4 separate regions of the Homo sapiens genome follow, and regions 1, 2 and 4 are each linked to region 3. Evidence: fine-mapped expression QTL. A gene starts in region 3. Each other region holds a variant in brackets. All regions are shown on one strand. Distances are between the middles of the regions.

Evidence for each region. PIP is the estimated chance that this variant, and not a neighbour inherited with it, causes the effect.
Region 1: its variant is fine-mapped to the expression of CTSW in whole blood (INTERVAL, PIP above 0.99).
Region 2: its variant is fine-mapped to the expression of CTSW in whole blood (INTERVAL, PIP above 0.99).
Region 4: its variant is fine-mapped to the expression of CTSW in whole blood (INTERVAL, PIP 0.99).

What each region holds. Positions count from the first base shown.
Region 1 is chr11:66,260,824-66,268,905 of GRCh38, forward strand. KLC2 (kinesin light chain 2) reads left to right here. Exons shown (of 16, transcript NM_001318734.2): 3 at 919-1,149; 4 at 1,300-1,369; 5 at 1,991-2,213; 6 at 2,837-2,924; 7 at 3,028-3,129; 8 at 3,223-3,396; 9 at 3,522-3,621; 10 at 4,200-4,249; 11 at 4,345-4,412; 12 at 4,832-4,940; 13 at 5,031-5,189; 14 at 5,270-5,394; 15 at 5,610-5,667; 16 at 6,050-7,037. The coding sequence ends at 6,133. It overlaps RAB1B (RAB1B, member RAS oncogene family), which reads left to right and starts at 7,816. Exons shown (of 6, transcript NM_030981.3): 1 at 7,816-7,870. The coding sequence starts at 7,857. KLC2-AS1 (KLC2 antisense RNA 1) reads right to left here and starts at 4,863. Exons shown (of 6, transcript NR_186327.1): 1 at 4,529-4,863; 2 at 4,320-4,397; 3 at 3,881-4,039; 4 at 2,868-3,057; 5 at 902-1,189. KLC2-AS2 (KLC2 antisense RNA 2) reads right to left here and starts at 7,588. Exons shown (of 3, transcript NR_186342.1): 1 at 7,476-7,588; 2 at 7,232-7,385; 3 at 6,726-7,008. RefSeq lists enhancers at 5,386-6,268, 7,025-7,074, 7,375-7,424, 7,545-7,874, 8,035-8,082 and silencers at 6,525-6,574, 6,595-6,914. The variant G/A (reference allele first, on the strand shown) is at 3,514.
Region 2 is chr11:66,091,853-66,099,954 of GRCh38, forward strand. The region is part of intron 1 of PACS1 (phosphofurin acidic cluster sorting protein 1); the gene reads left to right. Among named protein-coding and RNA genes, the nearest start is that of PACS1, 26 kb to the left of the region's middle. RefSeq lists an enhancer at 7,662-8,102. The variant C/T (reference allele first, on the strand shown) is at 4,712.
Region 3 is chr11:65,875,081-65,883,182 of GRCh38, forward strand. It overlaps CTSW (cathepsin W), which reads left to right and starts at 4,757. Exons shown (of 10, transcript NM_001335.4): 1 at 4,757-4,861; 2 at 5,122-5,206; 3 at 6,327-6,440; 4 at 7,095-7,249; 5 at 7,350-7,446; 6 at 7,529-7,609; 7 at 7,699-7,824; 8 at 7,989-8,053. The coding sequence starts at 4,775.
Region 4 is chr11:66,127,817-66,135,918 of GRCh38, forward strand. The region is part of intron 1 of PACS1 (phosphofurin acidic cluster sorting protein 1); the gene reads left to right. Among named protein-coding and RNA genes, the nearest start is that of PACS1, 62 kb to the left of the region's middle. RefSeq lists an enhancer at 1-185 and a silencer at 8,040-8,089. The variant C/T (reference allele first, on the strand shown) is at 5,040.

The DNA of each region.
Region 1 (8,082 bases), 390 kb after region 3:
TGACCTCGTGATCTGTCCGCCTCAGCCTCCTGAAGTGCTAGGATTACAGGCGTGAGCCACCGTGCCTGGCCAAAAAATTTTTTAAATTAGCCAGCTGTGGTGGTGTGCACCCGTAGTCCCAGTTACTCAGGAGGCTGAGGGGGAAGGACCACTTGAGCCTGGAAGGTAGAGGCTGCAGTGAGCTGTGACGGTGCCATAGCCCTTCGGCCCAGGTGACAGAGTGAGACATTGTCTTAAATTAAAAAAAAAAAAAAAAAAGAGAGAGCAAGAAGGGAGGTTGGACCCTAGGCAGGAAGGCAGGAAGAGACTGGAAACTAAGGAAAGGAGTTGCAGAGGCTGGGGAGAGGGGTGGGGGTTGAGGCCAAGGCCTTTGGATACTTTTCCTGCCCCTGTGGCTCCTCATGCCAACTGAGCATTTGGGACACATGCCCCTTCCCTACCTGGGAGCTGCAGAAAGGCAGGGGATGCTGTGGCCCCTCAGCAGAAGTGGGGATGGAGTCTTTGGGTGGTCCTTCAGCCATCTAGCAGAGTTCTGTGGGCAAGCGCTAGCCCTGAGGCAGGGAGCAGTAACCTACTGGCTGTGGCAGCAGAGGCTTGAGTACAACCCAGGGAGAGACGAAGGAAGGGGCTAGTAGCTCAGGGAAAGCACAGCACCCCAACTAGCCCTTTTGGGGTTCTCCTGATCCTAGAAGGAAGGAACTGGGGACTCCCAAGCCTCCTGGGTTTGGGCTTTGCATTATGGTGTGTCGGGGGCCTTGAGGAGATTCTCCCTTGACAAGCAGAGAAAAGACCTGCAGCTCCTCACTGTAGGGCCAGGCCTGGCCCTTCACTGGGTGCCAGAGCCCAACTAGGCCCAGGCTACAGTCATAGGCGAGGGGGTCGACAGGCCTCCGACCCTTACCTGGGCTGGTTGCACAGGTGATCTTGGCATTGTCGAGCCACCTGGGGGCTGTAGAATCAGAGAAGCAGAAGCTGCGGGCGCAGGTGCGGCGTCTGGTGCAGGAGAACCAGTGGCTGCGTGAGGAGCTGGCGGGGACACAGCAGAAGCTGCAGCGCAGTGAGCAGGCCGTGGCCCAGCTCGAGGAGGAGAAGCAGCACTTGCTGTTCATGAGCCAGATCCGCAAGTTGGATGAAGACGCCTCCCCTAACGTGAGCTCCTACCATGGTCACTGTTGCCCAGCAAGGAGGCCTGGGAGCAGGGAGGGGCAGCATGGAGCAGATTCGGCTCCACCCCAGCCCATGGACACCCCGGCTGCCCTGTGCCTCCTTCCCTGATGCTCATCCTGTCTTCCTTCCCAGGAGGAGAAGGGGGACGTCCCCAAAGACACACTGGATGACCTGTTCCCCAATGAGGATGAGCAGAGCCCAGGTGCGGATGGGCAGTTCTGGAGTGGGGGAAGGAAAGGTTGTGTGAACTCTTGGTCCTTGGGACCGAGTGGCTGCCATGTTCCTTCCTGCCTCACTTCTGATCATGACATCCTAGTGTGTTAGAGCTTCAAGAACAGTTGTACGTGCTGCTGCTTCTCACATCCCCCCAGCTCTGTGGTGAGCAGACATCACAATTAGCTGTGGAGTCACCAGCCTGGCTTCCAGTGCTGCTCTGCCACTAGCTTCCCTGACCCTTGGGAGAGTTCTCTTCCTCTCCGAATCACCTCTGAAGGAGGCACATGCAGACAGCCACAATGGGGCCAGTGCCTGCTTTGCTGATGGTACTGGTTATGCATCGGGGCCTCCACTCTGTACACAGGGACACAGGCTCAGAGGTTAGGCAGCTTGCCCCAGGACACAGAGCCTGAAGTACTGGAGCTGGGCCTCTACCCCCTCTTTCTATGGGGTAACTAGACCCATTCTATAAATGGGGAAACTGAGAAAGAGTGGTTAGTGACTTGCCCAGGGCCATGTGTCAAGTGGCTCAAAGGCACAGCTGGCATGTGCCATCCCAGTCCAGTGGGCAGATGGTACATCTGACCTCCTGCCCTTGGCCCTGCAGCCCCTAGCCCAGGAGGAGGGGATGTGTCTGGTCAGCATGGGGGCTACGAGATCCCGGCCCGGCTCCGCACCCTGCACAACCTGGTGATCCAATACGCCTCACAGGGCCGCTACGAGGTAGCTGTGCCACTCTGCAAGCAGGCACTCGAAGACCTGGAGAAGACGTCAGGCCACGACCACCCTGACGTTGCCACCATGCTGAACATCCTGGCACTGGTCTATCGGTGAGGACTCTCTGGGGGTGCCCAAATTCTTCTGGAAGGCTCCAGCCCTGGATCACTAACCCTTGGTGCCTGCTGTGGGCCAGGACTCGTGGCCCACCTGCGTGGAGCTGGGCTACAGATGCAAGTAAAACTGTCTAGTGTAAGAGAGAGGCTTGGCCAGAACTGGGGAGGGACTGCACATGAGGACTCCAGGGGTCCTGGGGAGTCCACACAGCTTCTCCAGGCACCAAGGCTGGAGGAGGGGCTTTGCCAGAAAGTGAGTTTGCCCAAACACAAGAGGGCTAGAAAAGGTTCCCATGGCAAAAAGCCAGCATGAGCAAAGGCACTGGGACCTGGAGAGCAGGACACGCTAAAGGGGCAGCAGGAGAGCCATGTGGCGCCCAGGAATGCTAGGCACCAGGCAGTCGGTGGGACCCCAGCACTGCGCACCCCAGCCAATTGTGAGAAAACTGCCTACAGCCCTTGGAGCTTGGAGAGCAGGAGCTGAGCAGGTCTCCCCACACTCTGGGTCTCACTCTGTCATACACACTCAGTGAGTACAGGAGTGACCACAGGGATTGCAGACCATTGGGGAGGGCCTTGAGCTGGAGGACAGCCCTGACCATGCTCCTACCTGCTCCCAGGGATCAGAACAAGTACAAGGAGGCTGCCCACCTGCTCAATGATGCTCTGGCCATCCGGGAGAAAACACTGGGCAAGGACCACCCAGCCGTGAGTGAGGGTTGGGTGGGAGGTGGGGGCTGTGCCCCATCCCCTGCAGGTCCCAGAGTCCTGCAGGGCCTGAGTCAAGAAGCTTCCGTTCTCCCACCTCCAGGTGGCTGCGACACTAAACAACCTGGCAGTCCTGTATGGCAAGAGGGGCAAGTACAAGGAGGCTGAGCCATTGTGCAAGCGGGCACTGGAGATCCGGGAGAAGGTGGGAACAGGCAGGGCTGGGCAGGCTGGGGGTCTGGGAGGCAGGGGCCCGGGCAGCCCTGAGCCCAACCCCTGGCTCCCTCTCCCATCCCAGGTCCTGGGCAAGTTTCACCCAGATGTGGCCAAGCAGCTCAGCAACCTGGCCCTGCTGTGCCAGAACCAGGGCAAAGCTGAGGAGGTGGAATATTACTATCGGCGGGCACTGGAGATCTATGCTACACGCCTCGGGCCCGATGACCCCAATGTGGCCAAGACCAAGAACAACCTGGTACCTTGGGGCTGAGAGGAGCTGGAGGATGGGAAGGAGGGAGGCAGGGATGAGGTTGGGGAAGAAGGAGAGAAAAAGGCTTGGCTGCATGCATCCCGCTCACTCTCTGGGTCTCCC[G/A]CTTCCAGGCTTCCTGCTACCTGAAGCAGGGCAAGTACCAGGATGCGGAGACCTTGTACAAGGAGATCCTCACCCGCGCTCATGAGAAAGAGTTTGGCTCTGTCAATGGTGAGTGCGTGGTCACCAGGTGCCTCTAGCCCATCCATCCCAGGCCCACTCTGCCATCAGCACCCAGGACAAATCCCTCAGCAGGGCAGGCCCTCAGGCTTTGGCCTGGCTGGTCACCAGCCTCACCCTCAGATGGTGCCCAGCCACCTGTGCTCACGTTTGCACACATGAGCACACACCCAACTCACGCAGCCCCCTTGGCCTGCTAGGGCCTCACACGCCTTTGCATCCCCCTTCTCCACTGGCGATTCTTGCTCACCTTGAGGGCCTGCCCCAGTGTCTCCCACTCTGGGAAACCACCTCTGGCCCCGGATGGTCAGTCATCTGCTCCTGAGTCCCTCGGAGCCTGGCCCATCATTCAGGCCTAGCACATGTCTTGGGCTGTGGCCTGAGGTGCAAGGGTCTGTTCTGCTCATCTCTGTCCAGAAGAGGGTCAGCAGTGTTTTGGGTCTTACTCTTGTTCATGCATTCAACGAAGCCCAACCGTGGTCTCCCCTCCCCTGACCCCAGTCCTGTGTCCAGCCCAACCAGGTGAGACCTATATGGTAGGCTGGTGACAGTCCCCTTTCTCTCCCCAGGGGACAACAAGCCCATCTGGATGCACGCAGAGGAGCGGGAGGAAAGCAAGGTAGCTCTGTGGGGCAGGCTGGGCGGTTGTCAGGGGAGGCTGGGATGTGCAGAGGGGGGCCTGCTCTCACTTCTTGTGACCATTCTTTCCTCCAGGATAAGCGCCGGGACAGCGCCCCCTATGGGGAATACGGCAGCTGGTACAAGGCCTGTAAAGTAGACAGGTGAGTGGGGCGGGGCTGGGCTGGGGAGCAGGGCACGGCAGGGCGGGCTCCACATTCCATACTCTCACCCCCAACACACCCCTCCTCTGCTGCTCATCTGGCAAGGCCCAACTCACAGGTCACCTGTCCCAAGAAGGCTCTGTCTCCCAATTCTCAGCCTAATTCTCTGGCTCTGGGTCTCCCAGCTTTTGGTCCTGGTGACAACATCCCATGAGGGCCCTGGGGCCAGGTCCCCAGCCCTGGGGTGATTTCCCCAGGACAGAAGAGGCTGGGTGGGCCCAGCACAGGGCTTGACATGGGAAGGAATGGATTCTGGCTACCCCGGAGGTCCATGCTTCCTCAGGGCCCACTGTGGGCTGGGTGCCAGGATGGGCCCTGGGTCTGGGGGAACATGGAGTTTGAGACTGTCCCATCCACAGCCCCACAGTCAACACCACCCTGCGCAGCTTGGGGGCCCTATACCGGCGCCAGGGCAAGCTGGAAGCCGCGCACACACTAGAGGACTGTGCCAGCCGTAACCGCAAGCAGGTGGGGCTCCATGCAGGAGGGGGTGGGCAGACACCTGTGTGGCCCTGGGTGTGGTCCATTCACTGCCTGATGCCCCTGCCCCTCCCTCAGGGTTTGGACCCCGCAAGCCAGACCAAGGTGGTAGAACTGCTGAAAGATGGCAGTGGCAGGCGGGGAGACCGCCGCAGCAGCCGAGACATGGCTGGGGGTGCCGGGCCTCGGTCTGAGTCTGACCTCGAGGACGTGGGACCTACAGCTGAGTGGAATGGGGTGAGTCCGGGGCCTGGGCCGGGTCGGGCTGGGAGCCTAGGTGGCCAGCGGGGCCTAGAGGCAAGCCTGTCCACCTGCAGGATGGCAGTGGCTCCTTGAGGCGCAGCGGTTCCTTTGGGAAACTCCGGGATGCCCTGAGGCGCAGCAGTGAGATGCTGGTAAAGAAGCTGCAGGGGGGCACCCCCCAGGAGCCCCCTAACCCCAGGTGAGCCCCCCACCAAGGTGAGCCTCAAGAACCACCCAGCAACCCCGGATGAGCTCCTGACCCAGAGTGTGCCCCACTGACCCCAGGCAACCTCCCCATCCCTCTCAGGCTCCACCACCCACCAGTCTGTTCCCTCCCCAGCCCCACCCTTCTCCCTGCCCCCATCTCCCGTGAGTTCCTCCTTGGGCAAATCCCAGGCTGTCCTTTTCCCTCAGGATGAAGCGGGCCAGTTCCCTCAACTTCCTCAACAAGAGCGTGGAAGAGCCGACCCAGGTAGGGGCAGGCGGGTGTCTGGGCACTGGGCAGCTGCGGCCGGGGCTGCATGCGTGCTGCCAAGCTTCCCTCCAGCATGCCTCTTCATCCAGCAACAGTTCCTGGCTCTGTCTCAGGCCTACTTTGGGCTGGACAACGGGGAGACACGAGGGGAACCCAGCCTCTCCTGGGGGTGGACGTGTAAACGGCCAGTGCTAACACCGTCACTGTGGAGATGGACGGGAGTGTCAGGGCACCAGGGTGTGGCCTTGGGTCAGAACTGCCATTGCCTCTGCCCAGCTCAGGGATTCCGGCTGCCTCTGCCAGGTCAGACCCCTTCAGGCCAGGGAGGCACAGACTGGCAGCAGCACAGGGCTGAGCCACCTGCCCCCTCTGCCCACAGCCTGGAGGCACAGGTCTCTCTGACAGCCGCACTCTCAGCTCCAGCTCCATGGACCTCTCCCGACGAAGCTCCCTGGTGGGCTAATGCTGAAGGGGCAGCCAGTCACCAGAGCGCCCACCTGGCACACCCCCCTCACCCCAGCCCTGCGCATGGGCCTGCTGCTTGTCCCGCCTGTCTCTCCCACAGCCCCTGTCTTTTCTGTTCAATCTCAGGGTAACCTTCTCCCTTGTCATCTCAGCCTGAGCCCTGGAGGCTGGGCCTGCCCACTCCAGCTCCATCCCTTATTTATTCCTTCCAGCAGGGCCCTCTTCCCTAGGTTCGGGCCAGCAGGAGGTGCCGGCTGGAGTCTCCACCATAGACTCAGTGGCCTGGCCTCCCCAGACCCCAGAGCCAAGAACACTAAGCACTCGCCGGCCCTTCGGCACCCTCGCCCTCCCTCCCGACTCAACCCGGCCGTTGCTTCTGTATATAGAGAAATAAGTTATTGGCCGCGCGCCTCCCTTCAGTCCACGGTACTACCCGGGCCTCCCCTCGTCCCTCTTCTAGTGGTACCGCCCAGGCCTTAATCACCCCCATTCCGTGCGGTGGTATCTCCCAGGCTCTACATTCTCGGGAGCGGCGCCTCCCAAGGGGGTCCTGGGACCTTCTCGCGCTCCTCCTGGCCTCTGAGGGATGCGTCCTACCCGCGCCATCGCCCCGTGGCCCAGGACGGGGACCTCCCCTTAGTCCGTCCTCCCACCGCCGGGCCCTGCCCCGCATCCCGGCCTTATGCACTGCCCCTCCCACCCGGCCCCGCCCAGGCACGGCCGACCCCGCCCCGGGCACCGCCCACCGAGCCATCCTGCCTCGCCTCCCCCCACGCCTGCAGCTTCTCGCGAGGGGCGGCGACGGTCCCCTGGTGGCAGGAGGGGCTCCCCCTGTTGCGGGTGAGGCGGCTGCTCTCATATTTTCAGATGTTGCTGTAGAAATAAAGACGGTTTAAATCTGAGCTGGGCTTGTTTTGAGACGGAGGTCGGGGGCCCCCAGCGTCTCTAGACTGGGGTGGAGCCGGGAAGGGTCGTGCGTGAGTGGGGGACAGTGTGTCTCGCTCAACCGCTGTCCGCGCAGCTGGGCCCAGATATTGTGCCCCACCCCGGAATTGCGTGAGGGGCCCACAAGTCAGGCTTTCCCTAAAACACTCACTTGTGGGGTTCTGGAGACCGCGGGCTCTTATGAGCTCTGCTCCTCACAAAGTTTTTGACCTTGAGTGAGTTTCCCGAGACTCAGTTTTTTCATCTATGAAATGCGGGTGATGACGCGCGGCTGCGAGTTAGGACTGCCCAGTACACGAAGAACCCTGGACAAATGTACTTTTATTAGTCTTACTAGAACCCACATTCTCATTTAATGTTCACAACGTGGGTATTGGGAGGGCAAGGATGACTACCTCCGTCAGACAGATGTGAAACGTGCCAAGCCCAGCCCTAAATTGAGCTTTCTAAACACCGAGTCGCGGTCAGGCTTTCCAGCACTGTCCTCAAGCCTGAGTGCGTCCGGAGTGCAAACTACAAGCCCCAGAAGGCAATGCGCCAGCAGTGATGGGAGTGGGCGCGGAGGCGCGGGCTCCCCGACTACGCCTGCGCAGCGGGGCTGAGTTGGAGAACGTCTTAGACTACAAGTTCCGGGAATCAGCGCGGCGAGGCCTGAGAAGAAGACGTTTGCGCCTGCGCGTCGCGGGCGGGGCCTCTGGGGCGGAGCGGCCACCATCTTGGAACGGGAGGCGGAGCAGAGTCGACTGGGAGCGACCGAGCGGGCCGCCGCCGCCGCCATGAACCCCGAATAGTGAGTGAGCCCCGCCCGCGCCGTCCAGCGCAGCCTCGATCCCGAATACAGGGCTGTACGCTTACCGGGGTTGTCTGGCCCGGGTCAGGACTGTGCGGCGCCCCCACATCCGGGTCCCTCTTCCGCTGACCCCCCCCCACATCCGGGTTCTGCCCCTCCCCCCAGGGGCCCCAGGACCCCGGCTCAAAACCCCGAGCCCTCGCACCCGGGGC
Region 2 (8,102 bases), 220 kb after region 3:
ATCATTTTTTATGGCTGCATAGTATTCCATGGTGTATATGTGCCACATTTTCTTAATCCAGTCTATCATTGTTGGACATTTGGGTTGGTTCCAACTCTTTGCTATTGTGAATAGTGCTGCAATAAACATACGTGTGCATATGTTGTTATAGCAGCATGATTTATAGTCCTTTGGGTGTATACCCAGTAATGGGATGGCTGGGTCAAATGGTATTTCTAGTTCTAGATCCCTGAGGAATCGCCACATTGACTTCCACAGTGGTTGAACTAGTTTACAGTCCCACCAACAGTGTAAAAGTGTTCCTATTTCTCCACATCCTCTCCAGCACCTGTTGTTTCTTGACTTTTTAATGATTGCCATTCTAACTGGTGTGAGATGGTATCTCATTGTGGTTTTGATTTGCATTTCTCTGATGGCCAGTGATGGTGAGCATTTTTTCATGTCTTTTTTGGCTGCATAAATGTCTTCTTTTGAGAAGTGTCTGTTCATGTCCTTCGCCCACTTTTTGATGGGGTTGTTGGTTTTTTTCTTGTAAATTTGTTTGAGTTCACTGTAGATTCTGGATATTAGCCCTTTGTCAGATGAGTAGGTTGCGAAAATTCTCTCCCATTTTGTAGGTTGCCTGTTCACTCTGATGGTAGTTTCTTTTGCTGTGCAGAAGCTCTTGAGTTTAATTAGATCCCATTTGTCAATTTTGGCTTTTGTTGCCATTGCTTTTGGTGTTTTAGACATGAAGTCCTTGCCCATGCCTATGTCCTGAATGGTAATGCCTAGGTTTTCTTCTAAGGTTTTTATGGTTTTAGGTCTAACGTTTAAGTCTTTAATCCATCTTGAATTAATTTTTGTATAAGGTGTAAGGAAGGGATCCAGTTTCAGCTTTCTACATATGGCTAGCCAGTTTTCCCAGCACCATTTATTAAATAGAGAATCCTTTCCCCATTGCTTGTTTTTCTCAGGTTTGTCAAAGATCAGATAGTTGTAGATATGCGGCGTTATTTCTGAGGGCTCTGTTCTGTTCCATTGATCTATATCTCTGTTTGGTACCATGCTGTTTCGGTTACTGTAGCCTTATAGTATAGTTTGAAGTCAGGTAGCGTGATGCCTCCAGCTTTGTTCTTTTGGCTTAGGATTGACTTGGTGATGCGGGCCCTTTTTTGGTTCCATATGAACTTTAAAGTAGTTTTTTCCAATTCTGTGAAGAAAGTCATTGGTAGCTTGATGGGGATGGCATTGAATCTATAAATTACCTTGGGCAGTATGGCCATTTTCACGATATTGATTCTTCCTACCCATGAGCATGGAATGTTCTTCTATTTGTTTGTATCCTCTTTTATTTCATTGAGCAGTGGTTTGTAGTTCTCCTTGAAGAGGTCCTTCACGTCCCGTGTAAGTTGGATTCCTAGGTATAAAGAGTCAAGACCCATCAGTGTGCTGTATTCAGGAAACCCATCTCACGTGCAGAGACACACATAGGCTCAAAATAAAAGGATGGAGGAAGATCTACCAAGCAAATGGAAAACAAAAAAAGGCAGGGGTTGCAATCCTAGTCTCTGATAAAACAGACTTTAAACCAACAAAGATCAAAAGAGACAAAGAAGGCCATTACATAATGGTAAAGGGATCAATTCAACAAGAAGAGCTAACTATCCTAAATATATATGCACCCAATACAGGAGCACCCAGATTCATAAAGCAAGTCCTGAGTGACCTACAAAGAGACTTAGACTCCCACACAATAATAATGGGAGACTTTAACACCCCACTGTCAACATTAGACAGATCAACAAGATAGAAAGTTAACAAGGATACCCAGGAATTGAACTCACCTCTGCACCAAGCGGACCTAATAGACATCTACAGAACTCTCCACCCCAAATCAACAGAATATACATTTTTTTCAGCACCACACCACACCTATTCCAAAATTGACCACATAGTTGGAAGTAAAGCTCTCCTCAGCAAATGTAAAAGATCAGACATTATAACAAACTGTCTCTCAGACCACATTGCAATCAAACTAGAACTCAGGATTAAGAATCTCACTCAAAACCACTCAACTACATGGAAACTGAACAACCTGCTCCTGAATGACTACTGGGTACATAACAAAATGAAGGCAGAAATAAAGATGTTCTTTGAAACCAACGAGAACAAAGACACAACATACCAGAATCTCTGGGACGCATTCAAAGCAGTGTGTAGAGGGAAATTTATAGCACTAAATGCCCACAAGAGAAAGCAGGGAAGATCCAAAATTGACACCCTAACATCACAATTAAAAGAACTAGAAAAGCAAGAGCAAACACATTCAAAAGCTAGCAGAAGGCAAGAAATAACTAAAATCAGAGCAGAACTGAAGGAAATAGAGACACAAAAAACCCTTCAAAAATTAATGAATCCAGGAGCTGGTTTTTTGAAAGGATCAACAAAATTGATAGACCGCTAGCAAGACTAATAAAGAAAAAAAGAGAGAAGAATCAAATAGACGCAATAAAAAATGATAAAGGGGATATCACCACCGATCCCACAGAAATACAAACTACCATCAGAGAATACTACAAACACCTCTACGCAAATAAACTAGAAAATCTAGAAGAAATGGATAAATTCCTCGACACATACACCCTCCCAAGACTAAACCAGGAAGAAGTTGAATCTCTGAATAGACCAATAACAGGCTCTGAAATTGTGGCAATAATCAATAGCTTACCAACCAAAAAGAGTCCAGTACCAGATGGATTCACAGCTGAATTCTACCAGAGGTACAAGGAGGAACTGGTACCATTCCTTCTGAAACTATTCCAATCAACAGAAAAGGAGGGAATCCTCCCTAACTCATTTTATGAGGCCAGCATCATCCTGATACCAAAGCCGGGCAGAGACACAACCAAAAAAGAGAATTTTAGACCAATATCCTTGATGAACATCGATGCAAAAATCCTCAATAAAATACTGGCAAACCGAATCCAGCAGCACATCCAAAAGCTTATCCACCATGATCAAGTGGGCTTCATCCCTGGGATGCAAGGCTGGTTCAATATACACAAATCAATAAATGTAATCCAGCATATAAACAGAACCAAAGACAAAAACCACATGATTATCTCAATAGATGCAGAAAAGGCCTTTGACAAAATTCAACAACCCTTCATGCTAAAAACTCTCAATAAATTAGGTATTGATGGGACGTATCTCAAAATAATAAGAGCTATCTATGACAAACCCACAGCCAATATCATACTGAATGGGCAAAAACTGGAAGCATTCCCTTTGAAAACTGGCATAAGACAGGGATGCCCTCTCTCACCACTCCTATTCAACATAGTGTTGGAAGTTCTGGCCAGGGCAATTAGGCAGGAGAAGGAAATAAAGGGTATTCAGTTAGGAAAAGAGGAAGTCAAATTGTCCCTGTTTGCAGATGACATGATTGTATATCTAGAAAACCCCATTGTCTCAGCCCAAAATCTCCTTAAGCTGATAAGCAACTTCAGCAAAGTCTCAGGATACAAAATCAATGTACAAAAATCACAAGCATTCTTACACACCAATAACAGACAAACAGAGAGCCAAATCATGAGTGAACTCCCATTCACAATTGCTTCAAAGAGAATTGTTGTTGTTTTGAGACGGAGACTTACTCTGTTGCCCAGTCTGGAGTGCAGTGATGTGATCTCCACTCACTACGAACTCAATCTCCTGGATTCAAGTGATTCTCCTGCCTCAGCCTCCTGAACAGCAGGGGTTACAGGCACATGCTACCATGCCTGGCTAATTTTTGTATTTTTAGTAGAGACGGAGTTTCACCATGTTGGCCAGGATGGTCTCGAACTCCTGACCTCAAGTGATCCACCCGCCTTGGCCTCCCAAAGTGCTGGGATTACAGGCGTGAGCCACCACGCCCGGCCTCATTATTGCTTTTATTTTTAATCAAAGTTATACATATATTTTAGAGAGTCACGTAGTTTTACAGACTTATTTAGAAAACAATCTTTAGGTATTATCTGGTGAATTCCAGCTGTCGAAAACTGTTTGGCTTTTTCATCAGCACCCACATTTTCCCAATAAGTTTGTAATTTCTTCTTTTTTTTTTTTAAATTTTTGAGATAGAGTCTCACTCTGTTGCCCAGGCTGAAATGCAATGGCGTGATCTGAGTTCACTGCAACCTCCACCTCCCAGGTTGAAGGAATTCTTCTGCCTCAGCCTTCTAAGCAACTGGGATTACAGGCATGCACTACCATGCTCAGCTAATTTTTTTATTTTAGTAGAGACGGGGTTTTGCCAATTGCCCAGGCTGGTCTTGAACTCCTGCCCTCAAGTGAGCCACCATGCCTGGTTTTCTTTTTATCTTTTTCTTTCTTTTTTTTTTTTTTTTTTTTTTTTGATGTAGGGTGTTTCGCTGTGTCACCAAGGCTGGAGTACAGTGATGGCTCACTGCAGCCTTAACTTCCCAAGCTCAAGTGATCCACCTGCCTCAGCCTCCCGAAGTGCTGGAATTAGAGGTGTGAGCCACTGCGCCCAGCTAGTAGTTCATTCTTTTTTATTTCCAAGTATTTCATTGAAACATGATATAATTTGCATATCCATTCTCCTGTTGATGGACATATAGGTTCTTTACAGCTTTTAGCTTTTATGAATAAAGTTGCTATGAATTTTTTTTTTTTTTTTTGAGACGGGAGTTTCACTCTTGTTGCCCAGGCTGGAGTGCAATGG[C/T]GTGATCTTGGCTCACTGCAACCTCTGCCTCCCGGGTTCAAGCGATTCTCCTGCCTCAACCTCCCTTGTAGCTGGGATTACAGGCATGCGCCACCATGCCTGGCTAATTTTTTTTATTTTGTGGAGACGGGGTTTCTCCATGTTGGTCAGGCTGGTCTCAAACTCCTGACCTCAGATGATCTGCCCACCTCGGCCTCCCAAAGTGCTGGGATTACAGGCCTGAGCACCGCGCCCAGCCGCTGTGAACATTCTTACACAGGTGTTTTTACAGACATACATTTTCATTTCTCCCTCTCTCTCTCTTTTTTTTTTTTTTAATGTAGAGACAGTCTCGCTTTGTTGCCCATGCCAGTTTTGAACTCCTGGCTTTGTGGAATCCTATTGCCTCACACTCCCAAAGTGCTGGGATTACAGGCATGAGCCACCACGCCCAGCCCCATTTTCATTTCTTTGGGGGTACATATGTTGGAGTGGAATGGTGTGTCTTAGAGTAGGTGTATGTTTAAACTTTGTAAGAAACTGCCAATTTTTTCAAAGTGATTGTATCAGTTTGCATTCCCACTAACTGAGGCAGACAGATTCTGAAGTGGCCCCCATGATAAATACCCCCTGGTATTTATGGCCTAGTAGTCCTGTGCCCTTGGGTGCAGGTGGGACCTGTGATTGACTCCTCACTGATAGAATATGGCAGAGGTGACAGGATGTGTATGGTCATGCATACCTGATTATTCCCAGTCAGATCGTAATGCTCATCTTGTGAGGAGACTCTCTCCCTTGCTGGCTTTGGTGCTGTGTTGTGAGCTGCCTATGGAGACGGCCCTGTGGCAGGGAGCTCAGGGCAGCTTCAAACCCACAGCCAGCAAGAGACTGTGGCCCTCAGTCCAGCAGCCCACAAGGAATTGAGTGTTGCCAACAACCATGTGTGTTTGGAAACAGATCCTATCCCACTCAGTTCTCAGATGAGACCATAGTCTCAGCCAGTACCTTGGTGGCACCTTATAGAGGACCCAGCTAAACTGTGCCTGGGCTTTTGACCTATAGAATCTGTGAGATAATAAACATGCATTAGTTTAAGCTGCTGCTAAGCTTTGCTAGTATTATTATGCTACAGTGGATAACTAATACGAGCAATATAGTTCCTGTTGCCCTGTATCTCCACCGACATTTAGTGCCTGTCTTTTAGATTTTAGCCATGTTAGTGGGCATGAAATGGAAACTCTGAGGCTTTAATTTGCATTTCCCTAATGACATTGAATACCTGCTAATTGGACATTTGGATACCTTCTTTTGCGAAGTATCTGTTCAAGTCTTTTTCTTATTTTAAAAATAGGTAGGTTGGGCATGGTGGTTTACACCTGTAATCCCGGCACTTTGGGGGCCAAGGTGGGTGGATCGCCTGAGCTCAGGAGTTTGAGACCACCCTGGCAACATGGTGAAACCTCGTCTCTACTAAGATACAAAAAATTAGCTGGGCATGGTGGTGGGCGCCTGTAGTCCCAGCTACTCAGGAGGCTGAGGCGCAAGAATCACTTGAGCTCGGGAGATGGAAGTTTCAGTGAGCCCAGATCATGCCACCACACTCCAGCTTGGGCTACAGAGTGAGATTCCGTCTCAAAAATAATAAAAATAATAAGAGTAAGAATAATCAATATGTTTGTCTTTTTATAATTTATTTGTAGAAGTTCTTTATATATGACGGGTTAAGTTCTTTATCAGATGTGTGTGTGTGTGTCTCTGCATGAATGTGTGTTGTATGTTTGTGTGTGTATCTGATAGAGTTTTCTTCTAGTCTGTGATGGGGAGGAACTTGCACATTCCTCTCACCTCATGCAGATTTCCAAACTGTTCACGTTTTACTGCATTTACTCTATTGTACTATTTCTCTCTCTAAATCAGTTTTTTCTGGGTCATTTGAGACCATGTTATGCACATGCTATCCTAGCACCCTTAAATATTTCAGTGTTTATTTTCCGCCAGTTAAGGGCACTCCCAAATAACCACTACATACTCCTTTAAGTCAGACAATTTGCAGTGATAAAACCCTATTGTCCAATCTATTGACCCCATTCACAGTTTGCTGCCCCAACTATATCTCATTTCTGTTTTGTCCCAGAATCCCAGGGAGGAGTGTGCATTGCACCTAGCTGTCAGCGTCTCTTCACACCCTCCAGTCTGGGATCATCCTTTGTCATCCCGGTTGTTCTTGTCCACAACCGTTAGATATCCTGTAGGGTGATTGGCAAGGCGGATCTTATAGTATTTCCTTATGACCAAATTCAGGTCATGATTTCTTGGCAAAAGTATCACAAAAATGATGCTGTAATAGTCTCAGCACATCACATCAAGGGGCACATTCTGTTAACCAGCCCTGTTACTGCTGTTGTTGGCCCTCATCACCTGCTCATGTTGGTGTCTTCCAGGTATCTCTGTTTTTCTTACTGTAATGCCATTGTTTTTCTTTTCTTTTCCTTTTCTTTTTTCCCTTTTCCCTTCCCTTTTCAATGGAGTCTCACTCTGTAGCCCAAGCTGGAATGCAGTGGCACAATCTCAGCTCACTGCAACCTCCGCCTCCAGGGCTCAAGCAGTTCTCCTGCCTCAGCCTCCAAAGTAGCTGGTACTACAGGTGCATGACACCACACCGGGCTAATAGTTATTGATTTATTTATTTATTTATTTTTGAGACAGAGTGTCGCTCTGTCGCCCAGGCTGCAGTGCATTGGCACAATCTCTGGTCACTACAAGCTCCGCCTCCCAGGTTCACTCCATTCTCCTGCCTCAGCCTCCCGAGTAGCTGGGACTACAGGCGCCCACCACCACACTCGGCTAATTTTTTTGTATTTTTAGTAGAGATGGGGTTTCACTGTGTTAGCCAGGATGTTCTCAATCTCCTGACCTCGTGATCCACCCTCCTCGGCCTCCCAAAGTGCTGGGAGTACAGGCATAAGCCACCGTGCCCAGCCTATCACTTTCTATATCATTTTCTTTTTTGGGGGGGTTTTGAGGGCAGGGTCTGGCTCTGTCTCCTAGGCTGGAGTACAGTCGCTCGATATCAGCTCACTGCAACCTCCGCCTCCTGGGCTCAAGTCATCCTCCCACCTCAGCCTCCCGAGTAGCTGGGACCACAGACATGTGCCACCATACCCAGCTAATTTTTGTATTTTTTGTAGAGTTGGGATTTTGCCATGTTATTCAGGCTGGTCTTGAACTCCTGAGCTCAAGTGGTCTACCCACCTTGGCCTCCCAAAATGCTGGGATTATAGGCATGAGCCACCATGCCTGGCCTATATCTGTTTTTGTTTTTTGAGATGGAATTTTGCTCTTGTTGCCCAGGCTGGAGTGCAATGGCGCAATCTCGGTTCACCACAACCTTGGCTTGCTGCAACCTCGGCTC
Region 3 (8,102 bases):
GCCCGGCTAATTTTTTGTATTTTTAGTAGAGATGGGGTTTCACCGTGTTAGCCAGGATGGTCTCAATCTCCTGACCTTGTGATCCGCCTACCTTGGCCTCCCAAAGTGCTGGGATTACAGGCGTGAGCCACCGCGCCCGGCCAATATAGGTGAATTCTTGAAACTACTATGTGAAGTGAAAGAAGCCAGACACAAAAAGCCACATATTCCATTTATTTTTTATTTTTTTTAGATGGAGTTTCGCTCTTGTTGCCCAGGCTGGAGTGCAATGGCATGATCTCAGCTCACCACAATCTCTGCCTCCTGGGTTCAAGCAATTCTCCTACCTCAGGCTCCGGAATGGCTGGGATTACAGGTGCCTGCCACCACACCTGGCTAATTTTGTATTTTTAGCCGAGATGGGGTTTCACCATATTGGTCAGGCTGGTCTCGAACTCCCGACCTCAGGTGATCCACCCACCCTGGCCTCCCAAAGTGCTTGGATTACAGGCGTGAGCCACCGTGCCTGGCCCACGTATTCCATTTATATGAAATAACCAGAATAGGCAAACCCAGAAAAACAGAAAGTAGATTAATGGTTGCCAGAGGAAGGTGGGGAATGGGGAGTGTCTGCTAATGGGGTCTGGGTTTTCTTTGGGATAATGAAAATATTCTAACACTAGATAGTAGTGATGGTCACACAACTATGCAAACATACAAAAACCCACTGAATTGTACACTTCAAAAAAGTGAATTTTCTTTGGGAGGCCGAGGCGGGTGGATCATGAGGTTAGGAGATCAAGACCATCCTGGCTAAGACAGTGAAACCCCATCTCTACTAAACAAATTAGCCTGGCGTGGTGGCAGGCGCCTGTAGTCCCAGCTAATCGGGAGGCTGAGGCTGGAGAACGGCGTGAACCTGGGAGGTGGAGCTTGCAGTGAGCCGAGATCGCGCCACTGCACTCCAGCCTGGACGACAAAGTGAGACTCTGTCTCAAAAAAAAAAATGTGAGTTTTATAGTATGTAATAATACCACAATAGGCCAGGCACGGTGGCTCACGCCCGTAATCCCAGCACTTTAGGAGGCCAAGGTGGGTGGATCACCTAAGGTCAGGAATTCCAGACCAACTTGGCCAACATGACAAAACCCCATCTCTACTAAAAACACAAAAATTAGCGGGCTATGGGGGCGAACGCCTGTAGTCCCAGCTACTCAGGAGGCTGAGGCAGGAGAATCACTTGAACCGGAGAGGTGGAGTTTGCAGTAAGCCAAGATCGTGCCACTGCACTCCAGCCTGGGCAACAGAGCAAGACTCTGTCTCAAAAAAAGGAAATATAAAAAAAGGCAGGAAAGGGGTGCTGCTATCACCCCATTTCACAGATAGGGAGGCTGAGAGACTTGTCCCAGGTGAAGGATGGGACTTGCACTCATGTCCCACGGACTTCAAGACTCGCTGGGCTCCTTGCCCCATATTAGAGCATTAAGGACCCGCCCTGCAAACACCCACTCTGTGCCAGCCACAGTGGTGGGTGCTCCACTAAGTATCTTCCACTCAAGCCTCAGCCTGAGAATTGTCATTGCCAATTAGAGATGAAGACATGAGGCCCAGGGGGGATGACTTAGTGCACAGCTGGTGCACAACCTAGACCTGAACCTCCATCTTTGCACTATCCAGCCCGAGTGAGCCTTCCACTTGGAGTTGCCTCCTCAGAATGCCTCCCTCGTCCTCTGCACCCCCAGTGACTTTCCCTGCCTTCGCCTGCTCTGCACTGGGTCCCTTTCAAGGTCCCAGACACCACTGGATCAGTGTCTCCCTCCTACCAAGCAGGGAGCTCCTCTCAGGCAGTGAGGCCCCTGTGCCCATGGCCCAGCCCTTACTGGGTACCAGCTGGGATCTGCAGAGTAGGCAGTTGAATGAACAAATGAGTGAGTGGGTGGAGGAAGTTCATTGATTCACTCAACAAATGTTTTCTCGGCCGGGTGCAGTGGCTCACGCCTGTAATCCCAGCACTTTGGGAGGCCAAGGCAGGTGGATTGCTTGAGGTCAGGAGTTTGAGACCAGCCTGACCAACATGGTGAAACCCTGTCTCTACTAAAAATACAAAAAGATTACCCCAGCATGGTGGTGCACACCTGTAGCCCTAGTTACTTGGGAGGCTGAGGCAGGAGAATTGCTGGAACCCGGGAGGCAGAGGTTGCGGTGAGCCGAGATCGTGACACTGCACTCCAGGCTGGGCGACAGAGTGAGACTCTGTCTCAAAAAAACAAAGCAAAACAAAACAAACAATGTTTACTGAGTGGCCACTGTGAAGCAGATGCTGTGGTGCTAGCCAGGGACACAGCACTGACCAAAAACAGACCCAAACCTCCTGGCCTCAGGAGCTCTAGTTCAAGGGAAGGGAGGAGAGGATCAAAGGGAAGGCCACTGGGCCCCACACCTCCAGTTCCTTTTCCCCGTGGCCTCCCACATCCCCTACCATCACAAGAGGCCCACACTGGGACCTCCACCTCTGAGGGCTGACATGGAGCCTTAACTATCAGTCACACACAGGACAAGACTGGCTGGGGCCCATAACTGGGCTCTAGAACCACAGGGCCAGGCACCACTCTGGGGATGGTCTGTCCACTGCATTTCAATAAAGGCAGCAGCATGCTTTTCAGATAGAGAAGCCCCTTGGTTTACTCTCTGGGCAGGGTGACAAAGTGTGGCCTCACGACTCTGGGAGGAATCCTAATAAAGAAACATGGTAGGCCGGGCGTGGTGGCTCACGCCTGTAATCCCAGCACTTTGGGAGGCCGAGGCGAGCGGATCACGAGGTCAAGAGATCAAGACCATCCTGGCTAACATGGTGAAACCCTGTCTCTACTAAAAAATACAAAAAATTAGCCGGGCGTGGTGGCGGGTGCCTGTAGTCCCAGCTACTCGGGAGGCCGAGGCAGGAGAATGGCGTGAACCCAGGAGGTGGAGGTTCCAGTGAGCCGAGATCGCACCACTGCACTCCAGCCTGGGCGACAGAGCGAGACTCCGTCTCAAAAAAACAAACAAAAAAAAGAAACGCAGTAGTGAGCATGTAAGTGAATAAATCCCAGGATTATAGCTGTCCTGTCTCCCACCCCATGGAACCCTAGAAAGCCAGCTCTTCACACCCTTCTCTGGTCTTGGTCACCAGTTCTCAGCCTGAACTCCTATAGGGGAGGTCCCCAGCCCAAGGACCCACTTAGAACAAAGGCAGCAGTAACGGGTGTTAATGCTGCTGCCCAGCCCTTGACCTCACAAGTCAGGCTTTGGCCTCCCTCCGTCTGTGATGCTCACCCTGTTATCCTTCTGGCTCTTCAGCCCCCTCATCCTCATCCCTAGACCGTGGGAGGGATGAGGAACGGGAGGCACTGGCTGCAGTTGCTGCTCCCGGACTCTGACTCTGCGCTTTCCTGTTTTGTTTTGTTTTTTGAGATGGAGTTTCACTTTTGTTGCCCAGGCTGGAGTGTAATGGTGCGATCTCGGCTCACTGCAACCTCCACCTCTCAGGTTCAAGTGATTCTTGTGCCTCAGCCTCCCGAGTAACTGGGATTATAGGCGCCCGCCACCATGCCCAGCTGCTTTTTTGTATTTTTAGTAGAGACAGGGTTTCACCATGTTGGCCAGGCTGGTCTCCAACTCCTGACCTCAGGTGATCCACCCGCCTCGGCCTCCCAAAGTGCTGGGATTACAAGCGTGAGCCACCGTGCCTGGCCTGGTTTTGTTTTTTTGACACAGGATCTTGGACCCACGCTGGAGTGCAGAGGCATGATCATAGCTCACTGCAGCCTTAATCTTCCAGGCTCAAGCAATCCCACTGGCCTCAGCCTCCCCAGTAGCTGGGACTACAGGAGAGCACCACCATGCTTGGCTAACTTTTTTTTTTTTAAGTAGAGATGAAGCCTTGCTCAGTTGTCCAAGTTTGTCTCCAACTCCTGAGCTCAAATGATTCTCCTACCTTGGCCTCCCAAAGTGATGAGATTACAGGCATGAGCCATTATGCCCGGCCTGCTTTCCTGTTTAAAACTCATGATGATCAATTGTTCAGTCAACAAACACCTAGCGAGCCTGACTCATGCCTAGCCCTATCCTGGGAACCGAGGACACCGAGGACACAAGCGAACTGAACACTTCTGGTGTGGTTGGAGGCAGATGCCCAATGGGCACAGGTGCAGCTGGGCTGAAGGGGCTGCAAAGCTTCTACCAGAGGTTGGGGAAGCAGGGAAGGCTTCTTGAAAGAGGCGGCCATTGAGCTGACTGAGCTTCATAGGATGAGCAAGAGTGGTTCCCTTGGCTGGGCGCAGTGGCTCATGCCTGTTATCCCAGCACTTTGGGAGGCTGAGGCAGGTGGATCACCTGAGGTCAGGAGTTGGAGACCAGCCTGACCAACATGGTGAAATGCTGTCTCTACTGAAAATACAAAAAATTCGCTGGGCATGGTGGTGCATGCCTGTAGTCCCAGCTAGTCGGGAGGCTGAGGCAGGAGAATTGCTTGAACCCGGGAGGTGGAGGTTGCAGTGAGCCGAGATCATGCCACTGCACTCCAACCTGGGTGGAAAAAAAAAAGAAAGAAAGAAAGAAAGAAAAAGGGGTGGGATGGGGAGCAGACAGGCAGGGACTGAAAGCCTGAAGGCCTGAGCAACTTGTGGGTTCTAGGGGTCCACCCTCCACCCACCAAGCCTGTCTTCCCCTTCGTGGTTTCTCCAGCCCCACCCTCACACCGTCCTCCTCGATCTGCGCGGCTTCCTGCCTCCATGCCACTCCAGACTGCACCGGCATGGCACTGACTGCCCACCCCTCCTGCCTCCTGGCCCTGTTGGTGGCAGGCCTAGCCCAAGGCATCAGAGGCCCCCTTAGGGCCCAGGTAAGTGCTCCCAAACCCTTACCTATGCCAGTCCCACGCCTGGGGTCACCCCTTCAGAAACAGCTGGCCTGTCATTCTCATTTTTCAGAGGGAGTTGCTGAGGCTGGAGAGGGGGCTGACGTGCCCAAGGGCACATGGGAAGACAGAAAAGGCTAACTGGCTGACCCCTAGCCCAGTCCTTGCACGGCTGGGAACTAAGGTGGGGCCCCAGCAATGATTCCTCTGCCCACTGCCCCTCTCCACCCTTGGTTCCTTGCCAGGACCTAGGTCCCCAGCCGCTAGAGCTGAAAGAGGCCTTCAAGTTGTTCCAGATCCAGTTCAACCGGAGTTACCTGAGCCCAGAAGGTATCACAGGGCACATACATCTCCAGTCCAAGCCCCCACTTTTTTTTTTTTTGAGACGGAGTTTCACTCTTGTTGACCAGGCTGGAGTGCAATGGTGTCATCTTGGCTCACTGCAACCTCCACCTCCCGGGTTCAAGCGATTCTCCTGCTTCAGCCTCTGAGTAGCTGGGATTACAGGCATGCGCCACCACACTTGGCTAACCTTTACATTTTTAGTAGAGATGGGGTTTGACCATGTTGGCCAGGCTGGTCTTGAACTCCTGACATCAGGTGATCCGCCTGCCTCGGCCTCCCAAAGGGCTGGGATTACAGGTGTAAGCCACGGAGCCCAGCCATCCCGCTTTGTAATAGATGAAGAAATCGAAGCTCAGGGTGGGGAACAGGCATGGCCAAGGCCACTCAGCAGGACAGGCCAGGGCTGGGGGTGTGTTCCCTGGTTTCCCGAAGGCATGAGTGGGTCCAGGATCATTCTTTGCTATGGATCTGGAGGGCAGTGGCAGGAGGTGGGGTCCTGCCCTAGTCCTACGTGATCCCCTGGCTCCACAGCCACTTCCCTGCGATTCTAGGCAGTGGACAGGGGGCCACCACCTAGTCATTTGCTCATTCAGCAAACACCCAAGGACACCCATTTTGTCCCCACATTGGGGACTTCTTCTCTAGCCCATGATCTAACCCCTGCCCCTGCCCTCTCGCTGTGCTGATCTCTCTAGGGGGCTGATCTGTGTGTGCCTTTTAGCCCAGACTGCCTGTGCCTTGTCATCTCCTCTCCCTGCCATGTTCCAGCTCTCCTCCTGTGGTCAGAGGTGTAAAGGACGTGGCCTGGCAGGAAGCTGGTCTCCAGCCACACATCCTTGAGTCACCACCACCGGACCCCTTGCCTGGCTTCCCACCTAGGGTGGCCAGAGATGGTCCTCTGGCTGCCTCTGGGGAAAACCCAACCCTCGGTGGGCTGGGTAACCACTTCCTGGGCCTGGGTATCTGCAGTGGGGCCTTGTGGGGGCTACAGGAAAGGAGCCAGTGCTCAACTGGGTGGGTGTGGGTGGAAGGGTGCCCAGCCAGCGGCTACTTCCTGCCCCTAAGGGCTTGGGAGTCAGCCTAGGACAACTCCCTTTTGGTCCAGAGCATGCTCACCGCCTGGACATCTTTGCCCACAACCTGGCCCAGGCTCAGAGGCTGCAGGAGGAGGACTTGGGCACAGCTGAGTTTGGGGTGACTCCATTCAGTGACCTCACAGGTACCATTAACCCTTCTGGCTCGTAGGTGGTGGTTGGGAAGCGATCTCCCCAGGGACACTGGCAGCTGGACCCAGCGGACCTTCAATTTTTACTTCCCAGGGAAGGAAATTCATTTCCCTGAGGACCAGGGGCTTGGGTGCTGGTATCAAATCACCCAGTGCAGGGGCAGAATCTCTGCAGTCCTGTGTCCTAATCCAGCCTAGGGGCCAGCGCAGCAGCTGCAGGGAAGCACCCAGCAGGGAGCCCAGCCTCTCTAGGCTTGGCACCCTTGCCTTTTTGAGACAGGGTCTTGCTCTGTTGTCCAGGCTGCAGTACAATAGTGCAATCACAGCTCACTCAGCCTCCACCTCCTAGACTCAAGCAATTCCCCCGACCCCTCAGCCTTCTAAGTAGCTGGGGCTACAAGCCCGCACAACCACGCCCAGCTAATTTTTCTACTTTTTGTGGAGATGGGGTCTCGGACTCCTGACCTCAAGTGATCCACCCACCTTGGCCTCCCAAAGTGCTGGGATTATAGGTGTGAGCCACCACGCCCGGCCTATCCTTGCCTTTTTGCCCCTCAGGGAATTATGGGACCAACAGCTGGAGTGGGAGAGGCAGAACAGGGAGAAGGGGTCAAAATGGAGACCTCAGTGGCCCTGTCTGTTCCCCAGAGGAGGAGTTTGGCCAGCTCTATGGCTATCGGAGGGCAGCTGGAGGGGTCCCCAGCATGGGCAGAGAAATAAGGTCTGAAGAGCCAGAGGAGTCAGTACCTTTCAGCTGTGACTGGCGGAAGGTGGCCAGCGCCATCTCACCCATCAAGGACCAGGTATCTGCCGCTACCCAGCTGGCTCTAATTCAGCTAAGTGGTGGGAGGGAGAGGGGCACGGCCCGAACACCTAGCCCCGCCCCACCCTCTCGCCCTCCAGAAAAACTGCAACTGCTGCTGGGCCATGGCAGCGGCAGGCAACATAGAGACCCTGTGGCGCATCAGTTTCTGGGATTTTGTGGATGTCTCCGTGCAGGGTAGGGTTGGGAGAGGGTGCGCGTGTGACAGGGGAGGGAGGCCTAGGGGCCTGGTCACCCACACTGTCCCTTCTTGCACCAGAACTGCTGGACTGTGGCCGCTGTGGGGATGGCTGCCACGGTGGCTTCGTCTGGGACGCGTTCATAACTGTCCTCAACAACAGTGAGTGCACTGCCCCGCCACTCTGGACATCTGCAGGGGGACAGGGTGGGCAGGAGCGGAACCTCCTCCCTTGTCTTGCTTATCTGCAGGCGGCCTGGCCAGTGAAAAGGACTACCCGTTCCAGGGCAAAGTCAGAGCCCACAGGTGCCACCCCAAGAAGTACCAGAAGGTGGCCTGGATCCAGGACTTCATCATGCTGCAGAACAACGAGCACAGTGCGGGCAGGGCAGGGACACGGGCGGATGGCAGGGACAGACACCGGGGCAGAGGCAGACACGCTGGGCTACTGGGCTAGAAGACAAGAGGGGGTGGGGGGAGCGAAGGAGCGAGAGACCCACACACCCACATGCCAAGGGTCTGATGATGTTCCTGTCCCCAGGAATTGCGCAGTACCTGGCCACTTATGGCCCCATCACCGTGACCATCAACATGAAGCCCCTTCAGGTGAGATGGGGGAGCTGATGGGGAAGGGGCATACAGGAGACTTGGCCCC
Region 4 (8,102 bases), 250 kb after region 3:
TTCAAAAAGTGAGACAGAAAAAGGCATATGGGACATTGTATGTATGTCCTGGTATGTGTGCACACCACCACCTGTGAAGCAGCCTTGCTGCTAAAGTAGACCCCGAGTTTGATAAAACGCCTAGATCTTACTGTGTATTTATAGGAAATACGAGGGATGGAGAAACATTGTAAATGGCTTTTTGGGGATAGAATCAGCAAATTCCAAACTGCATTATAGGATAAACAGAACAGTTTTTTCAACAAATAAATCATAAGGGGAAAAGGTGAGAAAAAAGCCTCTATAGATAAAAAGAGATTGAAGAGATGAATGAACCAATAGTCATATATGATTGATTCAGACAAAATGAAGAAAATGTGAGGCAATCTGGGAAATGTGGACACTGACTGATTATTTGATGGTATTAATGGTATTAAGAAGTTTATTTTATAAAACAAACCAAAAAAGACAAGAGGAAATTTATCTTATATTGAATATTGACAACAAATAATTAAATTTAAAAAATTTGTTAGTTAAGTGTGAAAATTGTGGATACATTTTAAAAGAATATCCTTTAAAGAGACATACATATTGAAATATTTACATATGAAAAGAAATGCTGTCTGTGATTTGCTTCAGAATAGCCCAGGCAAGGGAGTAGGTGGGAGAATCACTGACACAGGACTGGTTATGCATTAAACATCGTTGAAGCTGGGTGTTGGGCAAACTAGGCTCATTCTACTGTTCTACTGTGTATATGTTTGAAAATTTTAGAATTAAATTTTAAAATTTAACAAGTGAGTGAGGGCTGGGCACAGTGGCTCATGCCTGTAATCCCAGCACTTTGGGAGGCTGAGGAGGGTGGATCACCTGAGGTTAGGAGTTCGAGACCAGCCTGGCCAACATGGGGAAACCCTGTCTGTACTAAAATTACAAAAATTAGCCAGGCGTAGTGACATGCGCCTGTAATCTCAGCTACTTAAGAGGCTGAGGCAGGAGAATCACTTGAACCCGTGAGGCGGAGGTTGCAGTGAGCCGAGATCGTGCCACTGTACTCCATCCTGGGCAACAGAGCCGGACTCCATCTCAAAAAAAAAAAAAAATGTGAGTGAGATATCTTGACAAAAGACGGAGTAGTGGTTGCCTGGAGCCTGGGTAAAGGGGTGGCGTGGCTGCAGAGGGGCACAAGGGATCTTTTGGGGTGATGGGAATGATCTGCGTCTTGGCTATGATGGTGATTTCATGGGTACGTACATTTAAACTAATCAAACTGTTCATTTAAATGTGTGTATTTTATTGTATGTAAATTATACTGTAATGTCAATTTAAAAATTGATTAAAGTTAGTAAGAAGGGGCCAGGTGTGGTGGCTCATGCCTGTAATCCCAGCACTTGGGGAGGCCGAGGTGGACAGATCACCTGAAGTCAGGAGTTCAAAACCAGCCTGACCAAGATGGTGAAACCCTGTCTCTACTGAAAATACAACAATTAGCCAGGTGTGGTGGCGCGCACTTGTAATCCCAGCTACTTAGGAAGTTGAGGCAGGAGAATCACTTGTACCTGGAAGGTGGAGGTGGCAGTGAGCTGAGATCGCACCACTGCACTCCAGGCTGGGTGACAGAGCAAGACTCCATATCAAAAAAAAAAAAGGGTTTAAAAAATATTATTATTATTATTATTATTATTATTATTATTAAAATAGAGACGGGGCCTAACTATATTGCCCAGGCTGGTCTCGAACTCCTGGGCTCAAGTGATCCACCCTCAGCCTCCCAAAGTGTTGGGATAATGGTGTGAGCCACTGTGCTTGGCCAGTAAGAAGGGTTTTTGTGTATTATACACATAGTGTGGAATCAGTAGTGTCAGAAGTGTGAGGCACCCAGCACTGCCAGGCAGCAGGGATTACCTGGCTTGTGCTGCATCTTTATTTTTCCCTTCACCTCAAGTTAACTTTATCGTTCATATTTCTGATTTTGCAGTAGTGTCTCTAATTTCTCCTTGCAGCTGTAGAGTCAGCTTGAATTTTGTGATGTTTGTCCATGTGTCTGCCATCCAAAAGGACATGCATTTTTATGCTAGAATAAATGATGTTAGGAGGACATCTACCCATTTATGATAATTCTTTAAACATTCAATTGGCTACATTATAATAGTCAAGCACTAAGGGTACACCTGAGCTGAAAACAATTCAGCTGGATTATAATTTTGATTTATTTTCCATCCAGTCTACCAACCAACCAACCAGTCAGCCAGTCAGCATTTATTGAATGTATTCTTTGCACCATCCCCCGAGTTGGGTTTTGGGTGCATGAGGATGAATATGATACAGTCCTGCCCTTAAGGATGTAACTTTCAGGGTGAGAAGATAGCTGTGTATATGTATAATTTCAGCAGCATGACAAATGCCATGGTCAAAGTGGGTGCAAGATGCAATATAGTAGGCCGCATTTATACATGTTGGCCTCCTCCCTCCCTCCCCTCTAGCCCCCTTCCTTACCTGGTAAGTCAAATGAACCAAATGTCAAACAGTTTGGAAAGGAGAGTTGAAGCAGAAGGAAACTTCCTTCTGCCCCTTTGAATTTGTTACTTTTTCTTCCAATTAAAAATGTGTTATTTTTACAATACCATTATATTGACATTGCAAGGGTCCCTGATGTTTTTATTGTTTTCTGTTGTCACTTTGTATCTCTTCTCCCATTCCCATCCCACTCCCATTAGCATCTTCTCTGATGTGTTTAATATGTATCCTTGGATATATATGTATTCTTACATGGTGTTTTCTGTAAATTTATATAAATAGTATTACATGATAATTCTCATTCTGATCCTTTCTTCATTTAAAACTATGTTTTTCAGTTCTGTTGGTGTTGTGTTTATATGGTGCTTTTAGCCACTGCATTGTATTTTTATTGCTCTGTCTACTGCGTTTTATTTGCCTGTTCCCCTAAGTGACAGACACCTTATTTGTTCTCCCTGTACCACAAACAATGCTCTGTGGGTATAGTGGCTCACACTTATAGTCTCAGAACTTTGGGGAGGCTGAGGCAGAAGGATCGCTTGAGCCCAGGAGTTCGAGACCAACCCGGGCAATGTGACAAAAACCTCATCTCTGCCAGAAATTAAAAACTTAGTTGAGCACAGTGGCATGTGCCTGTGGTCCCAGCTACTTGAGAGACTGGGGTGGGAGGATCGCTTGAGCCCAGGACGTTCAGGCTGCAGTGAGCCTTGATTGTGCCACCACTGCACTCCAGCCTGGGCAACAGAGTGAGACTGTCTCAAAAAAAAAGATAAAACTAAATAAATTAATAAGAAGATCCTCATATATGTCTTCTTACGAACTTGTACAAGAGTTTCTCTGGCTAAATACCAACAAGTATCATTGTTGGGTCACAGAGTATAATCATATTTAATTTCACTAAGTAATGCATGATTGCTTAATTTGTATTTCCACTACTAAGTGCAGTCCTTAGTATTTGACTTTAAAACTTTTGTGAGTTTGGCAGGTTTCACATGTTATTAATATCTTTTTAAACTCACATTTCTCTGATTACTAATGAGCATGGCTAGATTTCTGTATATACTGGGTAGTCTTTGGATTTTCCTTTTATGAATGACCTGGTCATATCATTTTCCCATTTTTCCAGTAGAGTTTCTTATATATTGTAGCTATTAATCCTAAGGCAGTTATAAATGTTTCAGATGTCTTCTTCTGTCCCTCATCTACCTGCTAACTTTGTTTGTGGTGTCCTTTATTCAGCAGAAATCTTTTGTTTTAATTTAGACATTTCCTTTGGTTTTTCCATTTATAAAGATTTGTGCTTTTTGATGTCTTACTTAAGAAATCTTTTCTGGGCCAGGCGTGGTGGCTCATGACTGTAATCCCAGCACTTTGGGAGGCCAAGGTGGAAGGATTGCTTGAAGCCAGGAGTTCGAGACCAGCCTGGGCAACATAGCAAGACTCCATCTCTATGTAAAAAAAAAAGGCATTATCCTGTATTTTCTTCTAATTAGGTTTATATGTGTCTCAAATTTACATCTCCAGTTTGATTTTTTCTCTGATCTCTAAATTTGTATACTCACTGTCTACCTGATAGCCCCACCTAAATATCTAACAGATATCTCAAACTTAGCATTGCTAAAACTTATTTTATCCCTTCCTCATTAAAAAAAAAAAATCTGTTCCTCTCCCAATCTTTATTCATCTAAGTACACTTGTCCCTTGGTATCTCTGGGGGATTGGTTCCACGAGCAGCCCTCCACAATGGATACTGATATAGGTTAGCTGTGTGTCCCCACTCAAATCTCATCTTGAATTGTAATCCCTGAGTGTTAAGGGAGGAACCTGATGGCAAGTGACTGGATTATGGGGGCGGTTTCTTCCATGCTGTTCTTGTGACAGTGAATGAATTCTCACAAGATCTGATGGTTTTATAAATGGTGCTTTTTTCCTGCGCTCTCACACACCTCTGTCTCCTGCCACCATGTGAGACAGTCCATGCTTGCTTCCCCTTCACGATGATTGTGAGTTTCCTGAGGCCTCCCCTACCTTGTGGAACTGCGAGTCAATTAAAACCCTTTCCTTTATAAATTACCCAGTCTCATGTAGTATCTTTATAGCAGTGTGAAAACGGATTAATACAGATACCAAAATCCACAGATGCTTAAGTTCCTTATATAGTGACACTGTATTTGCATATAACCTACACACATCCTCCCTCGTACTTTAATCTCTTGAATACTTATAATAGTTAATACAATGTAAATGCTATGTAAATTGTTGTTATACTGTATTATTTAGGGAATAAACAAGAAAAAAAAAGTCTGTACATGTTCAGTATAGATGCAACCAGCCTTTTTTTCCCCCTAAATATACATATAGGTACATACTTCTTGAGATGGAGTTTTACTCTCTTGCCCAGGCTAGAGTGCAGTGGTGGGATCTCTGCTCACTGCAACCTCCGCCTCCCAGGTTCAAGCAATTCTCATGCCTTAGTCTGCTGATTAGCTGGGATTACAGGCACATGCCACCACGCCCAGCTAATTTTGTATTTTTAGTAGAGA[C/T]GGAGTTTCACCATGTTGGCCAGGCTGGTCTCGAACTCGTGACCTCAAGTGATCTCCCTGCCTTGGCCTCCCAAAGTGCTGGGATTACAGAAGTGAGCCATGGCACCTGGCTTTTTTCCTAAATATTTTTGATCCATGGATATGGAACCTGTGGGTACAGAGGGCCGACTGTAAATGGTGCTGCCTTCCACCCTGTTGCTCAAGCCAAAAACCCCGGAGTCATCTTTGCTTCTTTTTCATGCTCTGTGTGTGCAATCTATCAGCAAGTTCTATACATTCTGACTCCAGAAAATTTCTGGAATCTGTCCTGGGCACTTTATGGCCTCCTGCTGCTACTCTAACCCGTGTCACCTGTCTTCGTATAGCCATTATTACTCTGCTTTGCAGAGTTTATTTGTTGCATTTATTCATTAAAGACTCTCACCTCAGCTTTATAGCTAGTTTTGCAAGATAGAGCACTAGGTCTGGCTAGCCATATGCTGCCAGATGGAGGAGCTGAGTTTTTTTCCTATGTTCTGCTCCTTGGCTTCACTAGTGGCTGCTGGAGGCATCACTGTGCACAGATGCTTGGGGCAAAGGATCTTGCCAACCTCGATGCAGGTCACTGGAACAGCTGATAATGTCCGTGGTTTATAACCTGATGTAGATCCAGAGATGTCATTGAAAGATTTTTGCCTGCCAGCAGGTCTGAGTCTGAAGACCATGCCCAGGCTGGGGTGGCGCTATCATAGCTCACTGCAGCCTCCGATTCCTGTGTTCAAGCTGTCCTCCAGGGTAGCAGGAACTATAGGCACACACCACTACACCCAGCTAACTTTTCAATTTTTTTGTAGAGATGGAGTTCCACATCTGTCGGTCAGACTGGTCTGAAACTTCTGGCCTCAAGCGATCCTCCTATCTCAACCCCCCAAAGTGCTGGGATTACAGGTGTGAGCCACTGCGCCCAGCCAGACTTTTTTGTTAAATGTACCTTAAAGCAATGCTTTCTTCTTTTTTTTCCCATCACAAATTTAATTATTTATAAAAATATCTAATGGAAAGAAACTGGATTAGCAAGCCAGACAGATACTTGTCCTGGCTAAGTGTGATACTGGGCAAGTTGTTGACTTCCTTCTTCAGATGCCTGTGATATATACCCCATGTTTATTCTAATTTCTTAAAGATATGAGAACCTAGCTCTAACATAAGCATGAAATGCCTATTCCTGAGGCATTGATCACATTGTCATTGTTCCAGGTTCCTCTCTGTGCTCCCTGAAATCCCCATTAGCGTAATTCCCCACCATCCCCTTGTGCGGAGTCCACTGCCCCACTGTGCTGCTGCCCTCGACTGTTGTGAGGCCGGCTGAGTTTCAGTAACAGGGACTCGGTGATTAAATTTCTTTTTCTTTTTCTTTTTCTTTTTTTTTTTTTTTTTTTTTTTTTGAGACGGAGTCTCGCTCTGTCCCCCAAGCTGGAGTGCAGTGGAGCAATCTCGCTCGGCTCACTGCAACCTCTGCCTCCCAGGTTCAAGTGATTCTTGTGCCTCAGCCTCCCTAGTAGCTGGGACCTACAGGTGCCTGCCACTACACCTGGCTAGGTGATGAAATTTCTTCAGCTTTCTCTGGCCCTCCCTACTTCTAGGATCCAAATGACACGCTACGTATCGTTGCCATTTCTGATTTGGATGTACAAATATAGGGACAGATGGGTTTGTGTTTGTTTTTGATGTATTTTTTTTTCTCTCTTAATCTGGCTGTAAAAGCATTTCCAATGGCTTATAGTTTAGTATGTGTTCCCAAAGTGGGAGCAGCCTGTACATATGGAAGTCCAGTTGGGTAGGGCTCCCTGTACCCTGGCGCCAGGGCGTTGTTCTGACCGATGGTGCCCCCTGATGGCCAGTGTAGAAACTTGGTCACGGTGTCATCTTTTTCTCACTATCACTGGGGATTCCCTTCACTCCCCAGCAATTACTCACTTTTATTCTGTCTTGAATCTTAGATAATTATGCCGGAGATAATCCTTCTTATCTCCTCTTTGGGTTTCTTGTTTCTTCCTTATTTATTGCTCTCTTACCTCAAAAATATCTTATTTCAGCCAAGTGCAGTGGCTCACGCCTGTAATCCCAGCATTTTGGGAGGCTGAGGTAGGTGGATCACCTGAGGTCAGGAGTTCGAGACCAGCCTGGCCATCATGGTGAAACCCTGTCTCTACTAAAAATACAAAAATTAGCCAGGTGTGGTGCTACTCCAGCTACTTGGGAGTCTGAGGCAGGAGGATGGCTTGAACCCGGGATGTGGAGGTTGCAGTGAGCTGAGGTCACATCGCTGCACTCCAGCCTGGGCAATAGAGATAGACTCCATCTCAAAAAAAAAAATCTTATTTCTTCTCACCACTCATTCTTTTCATTATATTTTGAACTAAAAGCTTGTCCTGGTAATGGCTAAAGAGTACTTAGTGGTGTGTCCATATCAAAAAGAAAGGAAGCCCTTGATTTTGAAGAGAAATTAGAAGCCACGCTAAGGACTCATGGTTGCCATCTTCACGAGCTCTGAGATAGGTAAGGCACGCCCTTCAGAATCTTTATGGGTTTTTGTTAGCTCCTCAGCTTTCTCCAACTAAAATTGCTTTGGCTTAAGCTTTAGAACTCAAGATAAATGAAAGTTCTTCATTTTAACTTTAGTTGATAAATTACTAGTATTACAGAGCGATTTTCTGTGTGGAAAACATGCCAGCACTGTCACCCAGACACACTGTGCACAGGTTCAGCATGTACCATGGCTGCCTGAGGCCTGCCCTCATCCCTGCTGGCCTCCTCTCCTGCGCTTTTTTTTTTTTTTTGAGACAGAGCCTTGCTCTGTCACCCAGGCTAGAGTGCAGTGGTGCAATCTCAACTCAGTGCAACCTCCACCTCCTGGGTTCAAGCAATTCTTCTGTCTCAGCCTCCCGAGTAGCTGGGATTACAGGTGCCTACCACCATGCCTGGCTAATTTTTGTATTTTTAGTAGAGACGGGGTTTCACCATGTTGGCCAGGCTGGTCTCGAACTCCTGACCTCAAGTGATCCACCCCACTTGGCCTCCCAA